Linked DNA regions of Homo sapiens. The protein of the gene in region 2 purifies or fractionates together with the protein of the main gene of each other region. This does not show direct contact. Each region holds a gene or a part of one and is shown on either strand. Other genes may lie near its edges.

Region 1 (7,030 bases), on a different chromosome or scaffold from region 2:
TAAAAAAAAAAAGTTGTAACACTTTTAGGTCACCTCCATCTACGGTTGTCAGGGCACTGAGATAAATGAACTCAATAATGGCACCTTCCATTTAGGCGAGTTTATAAATCAACCTACAAAGTTGGGGAGAAAGAACACGTAGGCAGACCTGGAATCCTTAAGTAAGCTTCTCTCTTTCCACAAAAGCAGTTCACAGATCTGTAAATATGTCCTGTAAGGCCAATCACAAAACTCCTCTGGTTTTAAGAGCAGAAAATTCTTTACAACTAAGGGCCTGTATTTTTTCCTTCATCTGCTACCTATACCTCTCATAAGTACAACCTCTATTCATCTTTCTTGTCCTCTTACTCAGCCCTAGGCCTAGTTAAAAAAAAAAAGGAATATATTAATTTTTTTCTTAATATTGAACTTCCAAGAGACCACCAATATAAGCAGCAACTCCAAACTCTTGAACAACAAAACTTTATAAACTTTCTGTATCTGTGGTAACAATTCCATCAATGAGAAAAACAAGCTATTAAAGAAATAATTATTTTTGAAAAGTAGAGGGCCACCTATGTAAAGAGACTGCTTTAAAAAAAAAAAATCCAGTATTTGGCAGCTATAGCTCCTAATACAAGAGTACAGAGAATATTTCTTTCTTTCTCAACACAATTTTTTTTTTTTTTTGGAAATGAAAAAGCAGGAAGACTTAGCTTTCTTTCTCAGTCAATTATCAATTGAAAAGAGAGAGCCAAATACCTGTATAATTCAGTATGTTACAAGGAGGCTAGAATATTTATTTTTAAAAGTCTCTAGTTCACCTAATTATATGCTAAATTTTTTTTAAATACATGTTAATAAAAACCACGTGTTTATGGAAAAATACACAATATCAACACCGAATGTATTTCAATTCTCCCCAAAATTAATCCATAAATGTAATGCAACCTACTAAAACTCCAACAGAGGGAGAGGGGACAAGATAAAAAAAATTTTAAGATGAAGTAGAAAATTATACACACATAAGATAGCCAAGAAAAATATTTATGGAAAAGCCGTTTAGCTAGTATTTAAAAATTATAGCACAACAGTCTGATACTTCTGTGTGAACTGACAGATAAATGGAAAAGCAGAGGAAATATTTCACCCATACTACAAGAATATGACAAAAATGGTACTTCAAAGTGGTTAAGAAGGATAATTCAAAATAAAAGGTATTGGAACAAATGGGAAATAATCTTGAAATATAAAATTATTTCACTACTTCACTCTCTAGAACAAAACAAACTGCAAATAAATCAAATAATTAAATGTTAAAATGAAATCATAAAAAGTATAAAAGTACTTACTAGGAGTAAACATGGGGGAAAATTTTTATGATCCTCAAGAAGGATTTTCTAAGGATTACATAAAACTCAATGACTTTTTTCACTTTTATGACTCAAAGTCATAAAAGAAAATGATAAATCTGACTACATAAAAATTTCTAAACAGAAAAACATACCATATGGTCAAAATACAAATAACAAATCAATAAAAAGTTTTCAAGACATATGACAAAAGGCTAGTTTCCTTACAATGCAGATTAAGTGAATCTACATACATGAGACCAAAAACCCAAAAGAATAGGCAAAAGCTGTGATCAGAAAAAATTTGACACCTAAGCCTATGAAAAATGACTCAAATTTAAAAGAACAATTTGCTAAACAATGTATTAGTTCACTAATATACTGTGTTGGTAAAGATATAAGGGAAAAGGTACCTTAACAGGTTGGTGGGAATAAAGGTTGGAACCATTCTTTGAATGACACTTTGGCATTAGCTACCAACATTTTAAATGCAAATATCCTTTGAAGCAGTAATTCTACTTGCACAGATTTATCCTACAACATATATAATGGCATGTATTCCCAAAGAAGTGTATACAAGAGTGTTCACAGAAATAGTATTTGTAAGAGAAAAAACTAAGTATCAACCTAAATAACCATCAATAAGGGACTGATTAAATAAAATATGGTACATCCCCAGAGTCCTCTGCATCTATTTTTGTGGAAAATAAAGTGAAAAGGATATACATGTATAAATAAATATTTATCCACAGATTATCTCTAAACAGATACTCAAGAAACTACTAACAGAGGGTGGATCTACAGAAGACAATTTGTGGAAATCTGGGTAACAGGTAGAAAGAGTTACTTTTCTGTGTATTCTTGTAGTACTGTTTGGAATTGTTACCTTGTATACATAAATAAATAAATGCTTTCGTAAGATTTGGGATTTTTATTGAGAGAAGATATTATAGTAATTCTAGAACTATACAGAATATGAAGATCAGCATCTTTCTCATTCAACAAACTGAGTGCCTATCACATCTAAGGCACTGCAATGCAGACACAATGCATACAGTCCTTTTCCTCAAAGAAAAAGGTCACAGCACCTTTCCTCAAGGAGTACACTGTCTGGTGGAGGAAAGAAATCAGTAACCATACCATTACCTTATATAGAATGATATATACTATGAAGAGGTAAGAACAGAATATTATGGAAACACGTGATGAAAGCAACTTAAAAATCAATGATCATCATTCCAAGAAACATAAATATCAATAGCTTAAATATGAAATTATCAACTCCTCCTTTGGGGTTAAAAAGGATGATGATGGCATTAGTCTGAGAAAATCTTAGCATCAGTAAAGCTGGGTCTCATCATTTTGCATACCTATGTCCTGCACTAGCTATCCACAAAGGTCACATTCATTCAAACACTACTGAGAACTATGGTTTTACCATTACAGTTCCCATCCCTAGTGCTGTCATCCTCAGAAGAACCTGATCCCTTTAGAAACAGGAACAAAAAGTCTCAAAGAATGTACCATAAGTATAGTATATCTGCAACATTTACTTCTATTTATTTAAGGGTTCCAGGGAAGAATCAAGAAATAGCCATTCAGTTTATACTTTTATCCTGGGCTAGCAAAGTACCTTAAAAAGGAACCATTAAATTGAGGCTTTGAATCAAGTTATTCTAATAAGTTGCTTGAAGGTATATTATGAAAATAAATGGCGGGGCACAGTGGCTCACACCTGTAATTTCAACACTTTCAGAAGTCGAGGTGGGAGAACTGCTTGAGCCCAGGAGTTCAAGACCAACCTGGCCAACATAGTAAGACCCCATCTTTAAAAAAATAAAAATAAGGCTGGGAGCAGTGGCTCACACCTGTAATCCCAGAATTGTGGGACACCGAGGCAGGTGGGTCACCTGAGGTCAGGAGTTCAAGACCAGCCTGGCCAACATGGTGAAACCCCGTCTCTACTAAGAATACAAAAATTAGCCAGGTGTGGTGGCACATGCCTGTGGTCCCAGCTACTCGGGAGGCTGAGGCAGGAGAATTGCTGGAACCTAGGAGGTGGAGGTTGCAGTGAGCCAAGATTGCGCCACTGCACTCCAGCCTGGGCTACAGAGCAAGACTCCACCTCAAAAATAAAATAAAATAAAAATAAAAATAAAAATATATTTAGGCTGGGTGTGGTGGCTCACGCCTGTAAACCCAGCACTTCGAGAAGACTGCTTGACCTCAGGAATTTGAGCCCAGCCTGGGCAACATGGCGAAACCCTATCTGCACGAAAAACACAAAAATTAGCCGGGCGTGGTGGTACGTGCCTGTGGTCCCAGCTAGTTGGGAGGCTGAGGTGGCAGGATCACTTGAGCCCAGAAGATGAGGCTGCAGTGAGCCAAGACTGCACCACTATACTTTAGCCTGGGTGAAAGAGCAAGACCCTGTCTCCAAAATATAAATACATAAATATAAAAGTTTTTTTAAAAAATTTTAAAAATAGCCAGCATGGTGGTGTGCACCTGTAGTCTCAGCTACCTGGGGGGCTGAAGTGGGAGGACTGCTTAAGCCCAGGAGGTCAAGGGTATAGTGAGCCATAATCATGCCACTGCACTCCAGCCTGAGCGACAGAGTAAGACTCTGTCTCAAAAGAAACAAACAAACAAACAAACAAACAAAAAAACTTGCCAGGCATGGTGGCTCATGCCTGTAATCCCAGCACTTTGGGAGGTCCAGGCAGGAGGATTGCTTCAGGCCCCAAGTTTGAGACCAGCCTGGACAAAAGTGAGACCATTGTTTTTTGGTTTTTAGATTTTTAAAAAGAAAATAACTACACATAAAACAAAGCCAATTAATGGACAATAGGTAACATGCTCCTTTTCAGAAATGTTTTTATAACATGGCAAATCCTTTAAGTTTACAATAATATAGCACTAAAATAGCATGTTTTCTAAACACTATTCCATGCAGTTATTTATCAGTGGTTCCACATATACCCATCACTTCATTTTAAAAAGGATTTGAGAGAGTTTGCAAATCACTAAAAAAAAAAAAAAAAAAAAAAAAAGACCACAAATTTGACACTCAGTTGCCCAGGAACCAATCTGAAACATAATTCACCATATCCATGAGGAGTATACTACTTATTCCCAACTTTTAAAAATAAGAAATGGCTTAACCAGAAATTATTCAGAATCACAAAAATGAAAGTGGGGAATGGACAGGGCATGACTTTCTTGTGTTTAGAAGCATCCACTTCCTGGGAACTTGGACTTTATATTAAGAACTGATACCTAATATTTAAACCATATGTCACTCAAAATCTTAAAATTTCTAATACATGCTACTACGCCAATAAAAATGATCATATAATAAATGGCTTCATGATAGTAAAAACTAGTAATTTTTAAGCCCCAACCCATAATCTGTATTTATGAGCAATATTCAATTTTATACAAATTTTCATGGCAATTAAATTTTGGCAGTCTCTGAAACTGATTTAATAAGCACTAATATTCTTTTCTTTGTCTTTACATTCATGGTTTCCAAGTCCTATCAATTCGTCTTTCATACAGCCTCTTCGTAAACTAACTATAAAAACAGATTCACAGCCAATTAAAGAAAGCGTGCTTCTTATACTCTTATATTCCTCCCTTCTATTCCATTTTCACTGAATGAACAAATAATGAAATAGTTCAGGCCCTACTCATCTTTCTCAGAACTACTGTAATAGCTTTCTAAATAATTCATCTGCTTTTCCTTCCCACCTATCTTGAATATTGTCACCAATTTTCTAATACTGCTTTCACGGTGCCTTGCCTCAGTTCAAATAACCTTCAATGGCTGTCTTCCCAAAGCCAAAAGCTCTAATTCGAGAAGGGGTGAAAAACAATAACTTTAGAAACAACAATTAAAAAAAACAATTTTGGTTTCATAATATAAATTACCAAAAGCAAGGGCAACTGGATAGCAGAGCATGGATTAAAGTGGAATGATAAAATCCAAATTCCTTAATTTGGCATTCAGTATCTTTCAGAATCCAGATCTACATATTTTCGGTCTTAATTAACCTTGGTTTAGAACATGTCCAGAGACCAGTTCGAAGTCACCCTTAATTATGTTTGCACTGCTCTCAAATCGATTTCTAGCCAGAGTTTTCTGCGCATATCCTCAAAGCCTAACTTAACCAACCACTAAGCCAAGTATTTTCCCATGAAAAATGGCCCTCAAGTGAGAGGTTTTAGTCTCACTTCAGTTACTGCATTGCGATGGAGATGCTCTGGGCACAACAGCAAACAGTAAAATTACAACTTATTAACAGATGAAAATCAGGGCTTACTCATAAATAACGTAAACAGCAATGTTAAACAGACAAGTGTCAGTGATCTAGAAACCCTCTCTTCCAGGCAGGCTAGTCTATGCTTCTAACCCTGCTCTGCACATTTCTCACCTTTGTCTCACATCAGTCCTCTCAGTAGCCCTGAATCTTCCAAACTTATTTTAGTTCCAAAATCACAATATAATTATTTAATAAGCATATTTTTATTTTTTTAAAAAGCTAAACATTTTTACCATTGCCTGTTAGAGACCCCCAATGATCTGGGTGGGTAAGGCCACCTCTTCACTCTCCCACTAGTTTTTCTCACTAGTCTTACACTAGATTCTCAGACACAAAGAGCTCATTCCTGCCTCAGGGTTTTGCCCTGAAGTTGCTTGGAAATGTTTTCTCTCTGCAGCTCAAATCTCACCTTCTAAGCCTGTCTTAGTGTCACCTAACCTAAAAAAGCCCCCATAAATCCCCATCATTCTCTATGCCATTATCCTGTTTATTTTCCTCATAACACCACTATTCTGGGTTCTTTATTTATGTGCTTATTATCTGTACTCTCCCAAGGGGGAGCATGTGTCTTGCTTATTGCTATACCCTCAAAGCTTAGAATAGATCCTGTCTCTTGGTAGGTAATCAATAATGGGTTGAATTAATGAACAAACTCTTGAATGCATTAAGAAATCCAGACACATTGAAAATGGTTAACTATCCACAACCATAATCACAATGTTCTTACACTTACTAAAAAAACTAAAGTTTCCCAATAGGTATCATCAATATGGAATTAGGGAACTCTGTAGAACAGGCAATATTCTTTCCCCATTGCCTTCCAACCTCAGCATTCCAACACACAAGATTCCAAGAGAGTGCTGTCACCCCCTGAATCCCTAATGTTCAAAGACAGAACTATTTTCTTTGTTCCCATACCAATACAAGATTAGTATGCTTTTGTCAATCATTAAACTTCCTGTGGCCAGGCGCAGTGGCTCATGCCTGTAATCCCAACACTTTGGGAGGCCAAGGTGGGTGGATCACTGGAGGTCAGGAGTTCAAGACCACCAGCCTGGCCAACATGGTAAAATCCCGTCTCTACTAAAAATACAAAAATTAGCCAGGCGTGGTGGCAGGCGCCTGTAATCCCAGCTACTCGGGAGGCTGAGGCAGGAGAATCACTTGAACCTGGGAGGCGGAGGTTGCAGTGAGCCAAGATTGCGTCATTGCACTCCAGCCTGGTGACAAGGGGGAGACTATCTCAAAAAAAAAAAAAAAAAATTCCTGTTTAAAAATATATTTCATATTTTTCTCTTACCTCAGTTTCCCTCAAGTATGTCTTTTTCATAAAGAAAAAGGAAAAGATTGAGTTACTCCTCATCTTCTAAGACC
Region 2 (7,030 bases):
GGAAATAATATTTTCCTTGAATTTTGGAGATTTAATTTTTGCTAAAGATTCTTATGTATAAGAATACATATTTCTATGTATATGAACTTCTACCTTTTTTTGGTAGAAAATTTGGCAGAAAAAGTGTATTCTATTTCATCAGTTGAACTATATGGAAATCTAGAAAAATAGAAGGTTAATAAAAAAGGAAGAATGGGGAATAGAGAAGATTTTTGTTAGGTTATTTGTGGAGGAATGTTAAAAGAGGAAGGATTTACAGTTCACGTTTTTCTCTCTTAAAAGGCCACTGCTGAAGCCAACAACTTAGCAGCTGCAGCCTCTGCCAAGGACATTTATTATAACAACATGGAAGAGGTACGTGGGACATACGCCTTATTCTGAAATATCTATAATCTGGGCATTGTTGCTGACTTCAAAAGCCCAACTTGATCCTACTTAATGTATCTTTAAGTGATGAGGCAATAAACTTATATTCAGGTTGTCCTGGTAACGGGGGCCTTCTAATTATTACCATTTCTTTGTTTGTTTGTTTGTTCTTGTTTTGTTTTGTTTTGTTTTGAATAGCAAATAGTTTATTGGTAAGTACATAGTTTCAATGGGAGTAATAAATTCACATGAGCAGGAGACAATAATCAAGTCAAAAGAATAAATGCTTACTAATCATCAGAAAATCTGTGGCCATTAAGGCTGGCACATAAAAATCCAAAATCACTCAGAGGCCGAATCTTAAAAGAAGATTCGTCCTCTTATTAGTTCATATGGAATAGGTCCATAGTAACTGGAATCTGTAGAATTCTGTAGATTTATCACCTTCTAACCAAACATGACCCACTGGGACATAACTGTAGCTTTTAAAGAAATCTGATGGACTAGTGGTGAGGATTTTGTCTCCTTCCAAACCAGTTACTCTTTTACAAATATTTGATGTTGGATCACTTGGGCTTTTTGCAATCACAATGTCACCTCTTTGGATACTATCAAAATGTCGACTAAGATTTTGTGCAAAGACAGTATCTGAATTTTGAATTGTAGGCTCCATTGATGGTCCAGAACACATGACAACACCACCAACGTATTCAGAAGCACAGTGAGCTATACAGCCATACTGAATAGCATAGCCAACAAGTCAGAAGGTTTCCCCAGAGCACCACGAAGCATAGTTCTATGTAGACTCTGCCACCATTGGTCATAGATCTGTTCTATAATTCATTTAATTTTTAGGGAAGTCGCAGGGCTTCCAGAAAAAAAAAATTAAAGCATGTCTCAAAGCGTATGTGGGTGATCCATGATTTCAGGAATCCTCGGGTCCCAAAGAACCCTGAGGACCCTCAACCAGGACACAGGTGGGCCTTTCTCACCTGGGCCCTGCAGAAGTCGACCGTTTGCTTTTGTTTTTTAGAGACGGAGTCTCACTCTGTCGCCCAGGCTGGAGTGCAGTGGTGCGATCTCGGCTCACTGCAACCTCCGCCTCCCGGGTTCAAGCGGTTCTCCTGCCTCAGCCTTCTGAGTAGCTGGGATTACAGGTGCCTGCCATCACGCCCGGCTAATTTTTTTTGTGTTAGTAGAGACGGAGTTTCACCATGTTTACCAGGCTGATTTCAAACTCCTGACCTCAAGTGATCTGCCCGCCCTGGCCTCCGAAAGTGCTGGGATTACAGGCGTGAGCCACCGCACCCGTCCCAGTGTCACTGCTCTTTCCAATTGATATTATCACCCTGGTTTTTTAAGTGTGCTTTTCAGAGGAAGTGAAACTAGACTTTATTGGTCTTAGTCATCTTTTAAAAGTTAACTTATTAATACATTGTTAACATCTTAAAACATTCTAATCCTTTCATTATCTTTTCATGTTTTATTTGGCACTTGTTTTTGAAGAGATCTTTTAACATATTGTTTCTTTGTTCTTTTTAGGTTTGTGGGGGAGAGAAACCTTATTTGTCTCCAGACATTCTAGAGGAGAAGCACTGTGAATTCAAACAACTTGCTCTGGACCATTTTAAGAAGACCAAGAAGATGGGTGGGAAGGATTTCAGCTTTCGTTACCAGCAGGAGCTGGAGGAGGAAATCAAGGAATTATATGAGAACTTCTGCAAGCACAATGGTAGCAAGAACGTCTTCAGCACCTTCCGAACCCCTGCAGTGCTGTTCACGGGCATTGTAGCTTTGTACATAGCCTCAGGCCTCACTGGCTTCATAGGTCTTGAGGTTGTAGCCCAGTTGTTCAACTGTATGGTTGGACTACTGTTAATAGCACTCCTCACCTGGGGCTACATCAGGTATTCTGGTCAATATCGTGAGCTGGGCGGAGCTATTGATTTTGGTGCCGCATATGTGTTGGAGCAGGTAAGTGGTGCTGCTGAAGAGCCTGAGGGTTGATAATGGGCAGATATTTGTGCTTCTGTTGTAAAATATCTCAGTTTGGAAGAATTTCATAGTGAAGACATGAGACAGTGGCCACTCCGTTGGCTGTTGTTTTCTGATAGACTGTATGTTTTATTATCCTTTAGGATATTAATATTTATTCTTAATATTTTGTTTCCATGTCTAAAAAGGCCCCCGCCCCGCTTTTTTTTTTTTTTTTTGAGACAAAGTCTCGCTGTGCTCTCTTGCCCAGGCTGGAGTCCAGTGGCATGATCTTGGCTCACTGCAACCTCCGCCTCCCAGGTTCAAGTGATTCTCTTGCGTCAGCCTCCCAAGTAGCTGAGACTACAGGTGTGTGCCACCACGGCCCGCTAGTTTTTGTATTTTTAATAGAGACAGGGTTTCACCATGTTGACCAGGCTGGTCTCGAACTCCTGACCTCATGGTCCGCCTGCCTCGGCCTCCCAAAGTGCTGGGATTACAGGTGTGAGCCACCGTGCCCAGCCCAAAAATAGCCCTTTAATGCAAAAACATTCCAACTTAGACATACTGATTGTGTTCCCCTTTGGCAACTTTTTTTTTTTTTTTTTTTTTTGAGACAGATTTTTACGCTTTTGCCCAGGCTGGAGTGAAGTGGTGTGATCTTGGCTCACTGCAACCTCTGCCCACTGGGTTCAAGTGATTCTCTTGCCTCAGCCTCCCAAGAGTAGCTGGGATTATAGGTGCCTGACACCATGCCCAGTTAATTTCTGTATTTTTTTTTTTTTTTTTAGTAGAGACAGTGTTTTGCCATGTTAGCTAGGCTGGTCTTGAACTCCTGACCTCAGGTGATCCACCCACCTCGGCCTCCCAAAGTGCTAGGATTATAGGCATGAGCTATTGCGCCTGGTCGGCAACTTCTAATTACATGCTCTTCAGACATAATTTTTATGTGATTCTCACTTCTCACCCCCTCTAGATTAATTTACTTCATTGAAAAGCAAGAACTTTGAAAAAATTATGAACTTAACGAAAAATGTTCGGTTTTGAGTCCTACTGGATTAGGAAAGGGATGGTATCTTTTTTATTTAAAAATCTTCCAAAAGCCAGTGGCTTGGTTATTTATTTATTGGGTTGCTTATTTATTTATTTATAAAATTTTTTTTGGAGACGAGGTCTTGCTTTGTCACCCAGGCTGGTATCTTAGCTCATTGTAACTTAAAACTCCTGGGCTCAAGTGATCCTCCCACCTCAGCCTCCCAAGCAGCCGGTGTTACAGGCGAGTGCCACCACACCTGACTAACCCAGTAGCTCTTGGACATTGACATGGTCACAAGTTTTGTAGATCTTTGAGATGATACATTTGTTTTTCTGAGTAACATGAACAGGTGAGTTGGGTTAGCAGCTTGTGAAGCCACAGGAGCTGCCTATCCTACCCTAGCCACAGAGCAGATGTTCCCCTGGCTCTCTTGGGAGTTAGCTGCTGCCACAGCCTCTCTGTATCCCTGCATTTTCATTCAACTGCTTTCTGTAACATGCCGATGATGGAGACAGGTTTTTGAAAGTTTAAGGACTTACTTTCTTGTTGCTGTGTTGTATTTTATTAACTTATATGTTGAATAAATGGACTTTTGCAGGCTTCTTCTCATATCGGTAATTCCACTCAGGCCACTGTGAGGGATGCAGTTGTTGGAAGACCATCCATGGATAAAAAAGCTCAATAGCATCTTAACGTGAAGATCAAACAAGAACACAACAAGCCCCTACTGATTTCTGGGTTTCTGCCACGGCCACAGGTTCATATCCAGAGGAATGGCAGATCTGAGACGATCCAGGAAGAGCTAAAACATGGCCCTGTAATAAATGAGCAGACCTCTCCTGTGGTTTCAAATTATTAAACACACTTCCATTTCTCTTGGAAGCATTTCTTTTCCTTGCTGTTATAGATGCAAGCCTGTGTCTATTTTCATATTACTCTGCTTTGTGCACTTTATGGAGGAGGAAGCTAGAGGAAAAATGGAAATGCAGCTTTTAAGTTCTTTATGTGCCACTTAGTGCCTTTTAAGATTGATTCCATGGTTTTGCACACACGATGGGGAGGGGATGGAGGATAACCTCATGAAAGGTGCCGTTTTCGGGTGAAACTTGACATTTCTTTTATACTTTACTCTTTTGAGAAGGATTCTTTTTTTTTTTTTTTTTTTTTTTGAGTTGGAGTCTCGCTCTGTCACCAGGCTTGAGTGCAGTGGTGTGATCTTGGCTCACTGCAACCTCTGCCTGCCGGGTTCAAGCAGTTCTCCTGCCTCAGCCTCCCAAGTAGCTGGGACTACAGGTGTACGCCACCATACCCAGCTAATTTTTTTGTATTTTTAGTAGAGATGGGGTTTCACCATGTTGGCCAGGATGGTCTTGGTCTCTTGACCTTGTGATCCGCCTGCCCGCCTTGGCCTCCCAAAGTGCTGGGATTACAGGCGTGAGCCACCGTGCCCGGCCAAGAAGGATTCCTTTTTTAAAAGTTTACAGAACTTGGAGAAACTTCAGAACTAAAGACTAACTGAAAATGATGTCATTACACTCAAAAAAAATTTACAATAGGGAATCCTGTTGCCACATAGTGTGGAAAAATCATGTCATATTTAAATATACCATACTCTGAAATGTGAGGTTTTTACCCAGTAGGCTGACAGTTTTGTTGCAACTTGCTCTATTTTTTTTTTTTTTTTGGTCCCTATAGCTTCTTTCTAGAAAAAGAGGCAAACGTGCCTTGAAAAGCCAGAGTGGCTCATAATAAAAGGAATGCGCTAGATACTTCAAGAAAAAAGCTAAGTTTAAATGAACCATGTGACCTCTGATAAGTCACTTGAACTTGTGCCTTGGTCAGGTTCACTGTAGGTTTACATATGTATGTATGTTTTACACAACTCTTGTAATTGTCATTTGAGGGGTTTTGTTTTTGAGAGTTCTGCATAAGAACAGAACTTTATTAAGGATTAGAGGGAAGATACAAATATTACTGCGTTTAATTGATGTCTAATTTCATGTGGCTTAGCAGCAATTAATAACCTGATTTAAGGTCTTTATTCAGAATGTTAATTTGCATTCTCTGCCGTGTCTAATGTTCTTAATAATGAAGCTAAAATTAACCCATTTTATTTAGTGAATTATCTATTTAATTTTACTTTGGCTAGTCTGGTAGCTTTAAGATAGCTTTGCCTTAGCAAGGATCAAAGTCCTACCCAAATATAAAAAATATCTAGAAGTATCTAAGAGTTCTTTTTTTCTATTTACCTTGATTAGGAGATAAAAGTTTTATCTGTTAGTTGCTTTTCCTTTTGGAATTATTGTGGATTTTAAAACTTAAAACTTGCCTGCAAGTATTTATATAAACATTCAGGTATATAAGCCTTAATTTCTAAGATAATTTAACTTTTGTTATGGGAGGGAGGTAAGAGTGTAAATTTTATATACATGAAGGTAAGATCTGAGTGTAAACTTTACATACATGAAGTATGAATGGAAGGTAGAAAAAAAGTCCCTTTTCGCATGTAATCTCTTTATCAAAGAATTTTCTTTTGACACTTTACCACTGAAGTATTTTTGTAAGTCCTAAATTCGCAGCATATTGTTTCATATTTATATGCCATCTTGCAAATAGTTCTTGCTATTTTATTCACTGCTGTTACACTTTAGAAAAATTCCAGCTTGTTTACTTGCATTTATCAGTGATGCCAACCAAGCTTTGACTGTTAACTTGAAAGCTTGCTTCTGAAATGTTGGTGCATTTTCAGGTGACCTCTTATCTCTCTGAAAGTTCATACCTATTAGCAGGCTCTGTAAATATTGACATACTTAGCTTTTAATACATTCTATAAGTAAATTTATAGATTTCAGAATAACTTAAAAAATTTAATGGTAAGAAGGGGTGATGTGTCGAAAACTCATACTAAAGTATTAGGTCACTTTAAAAAAAGTGATAATGTATGATTTAATGAAATCTTAAGATTCAGTTACTATTTAAATTCACCATTTCTGTTTTGGTCTTATAAAGAGACCTTGGTTTAATTATCCAGAGGAAGTCCTCTTCACCATTTTTTTTTTTTCTTAGTTCTGCTTCTGGAAAGTGTTTTATAAAGTTTTCTCAGTGAGGGTTCTTAAGAGTTTTCTTTGGCCTCTTTTCTCTCAACAGTAAATTGATGATTTTATATCAGCTTTTTCAATAAAAGATGCATTATCATTACTGGCTATAAATCATCCTGGGGAGATTTATAACCAGGTTAAAAATAATATCTTTTACTTCTCTCACCTTTTACTTGTGGTTCAGATGCTCAGACTGTGCCTGTTTGCGTCGTGTCTGTTGCTCTGCCGCTTTCCATGCAGGCATTTTTAATTTTACACAATCCTAACAATATATGGAACTCATTCCTATGAATATATAAAAGGAGGCTTCCAAAATTTTCTATTAAAATATTTCAGGATAAATTAAGTGTTGATAATTTGAAAAAATAATTTCAATGAGCTGCTTATAGTAAAAATGGTAGAATCAGAGTTTTCATTCTTTGAGAAATCTTTCTGTAAGATTGGCTCATAGATAAAATGAGACAAACTACTATGTATGATAAAACACCTTCAGAGTCATGCCTTGTTTTATTTTATTTTATTTTTTGAGACAGAGGTCTCGCTCTGTCGCCCAGGT

What was found. Proteins that work in one complex are often made in the same cells at the same time.
Region 1: the proteins of ATL3 (region 2) and RTN4 purify together in Homo sapiens (affinity purification with mass spectrometry; 6 studies listed by BioGRID and IntAct, with this or other methods). This does not show direct contact.

What each region holds. Positions count from the first base shown.
Region 1 is NC_000002.12:55,040,427-55,047,456, forward strand, and holds part of RTN4 (reticulon-4), read right to left. Parts: intron 6,901-7,030; exon of another isoform or gene 6,390-6,900; intron 1-6,389. UniProt on the Homo sapiens protein: Required to induce the formation and stabilization of endoplasmic reticulum (ER) tubules. They regulate membrane morphogenesis in the ER by promoting tubular ER production.
Region 2 is NC_000011.10:63,626,350-63,633,379, reverse strand, and holds part of ATL3 (atlastin-3), read left to right. Parts: intron 1-282; coding exon 283-354; intron 355-557; exon of another isoform or gene 558-1,186; intron 1,187-1,908; coding exon 1,909-2,340; intron 2,341-3,974; coding exon 3,975-4,061; 3' UTR 4,062-7,030. UniProt on the Homo sapiens protein: Atlastin-3 (ATL3) is a membrane-anchored GTPase that mediates the GTP-dependent fusion of endoplasmic reticulum (ER) membranes, maintaining the continuous ER network. It facilitates the formation of three-way junctions where ER tubules intersect.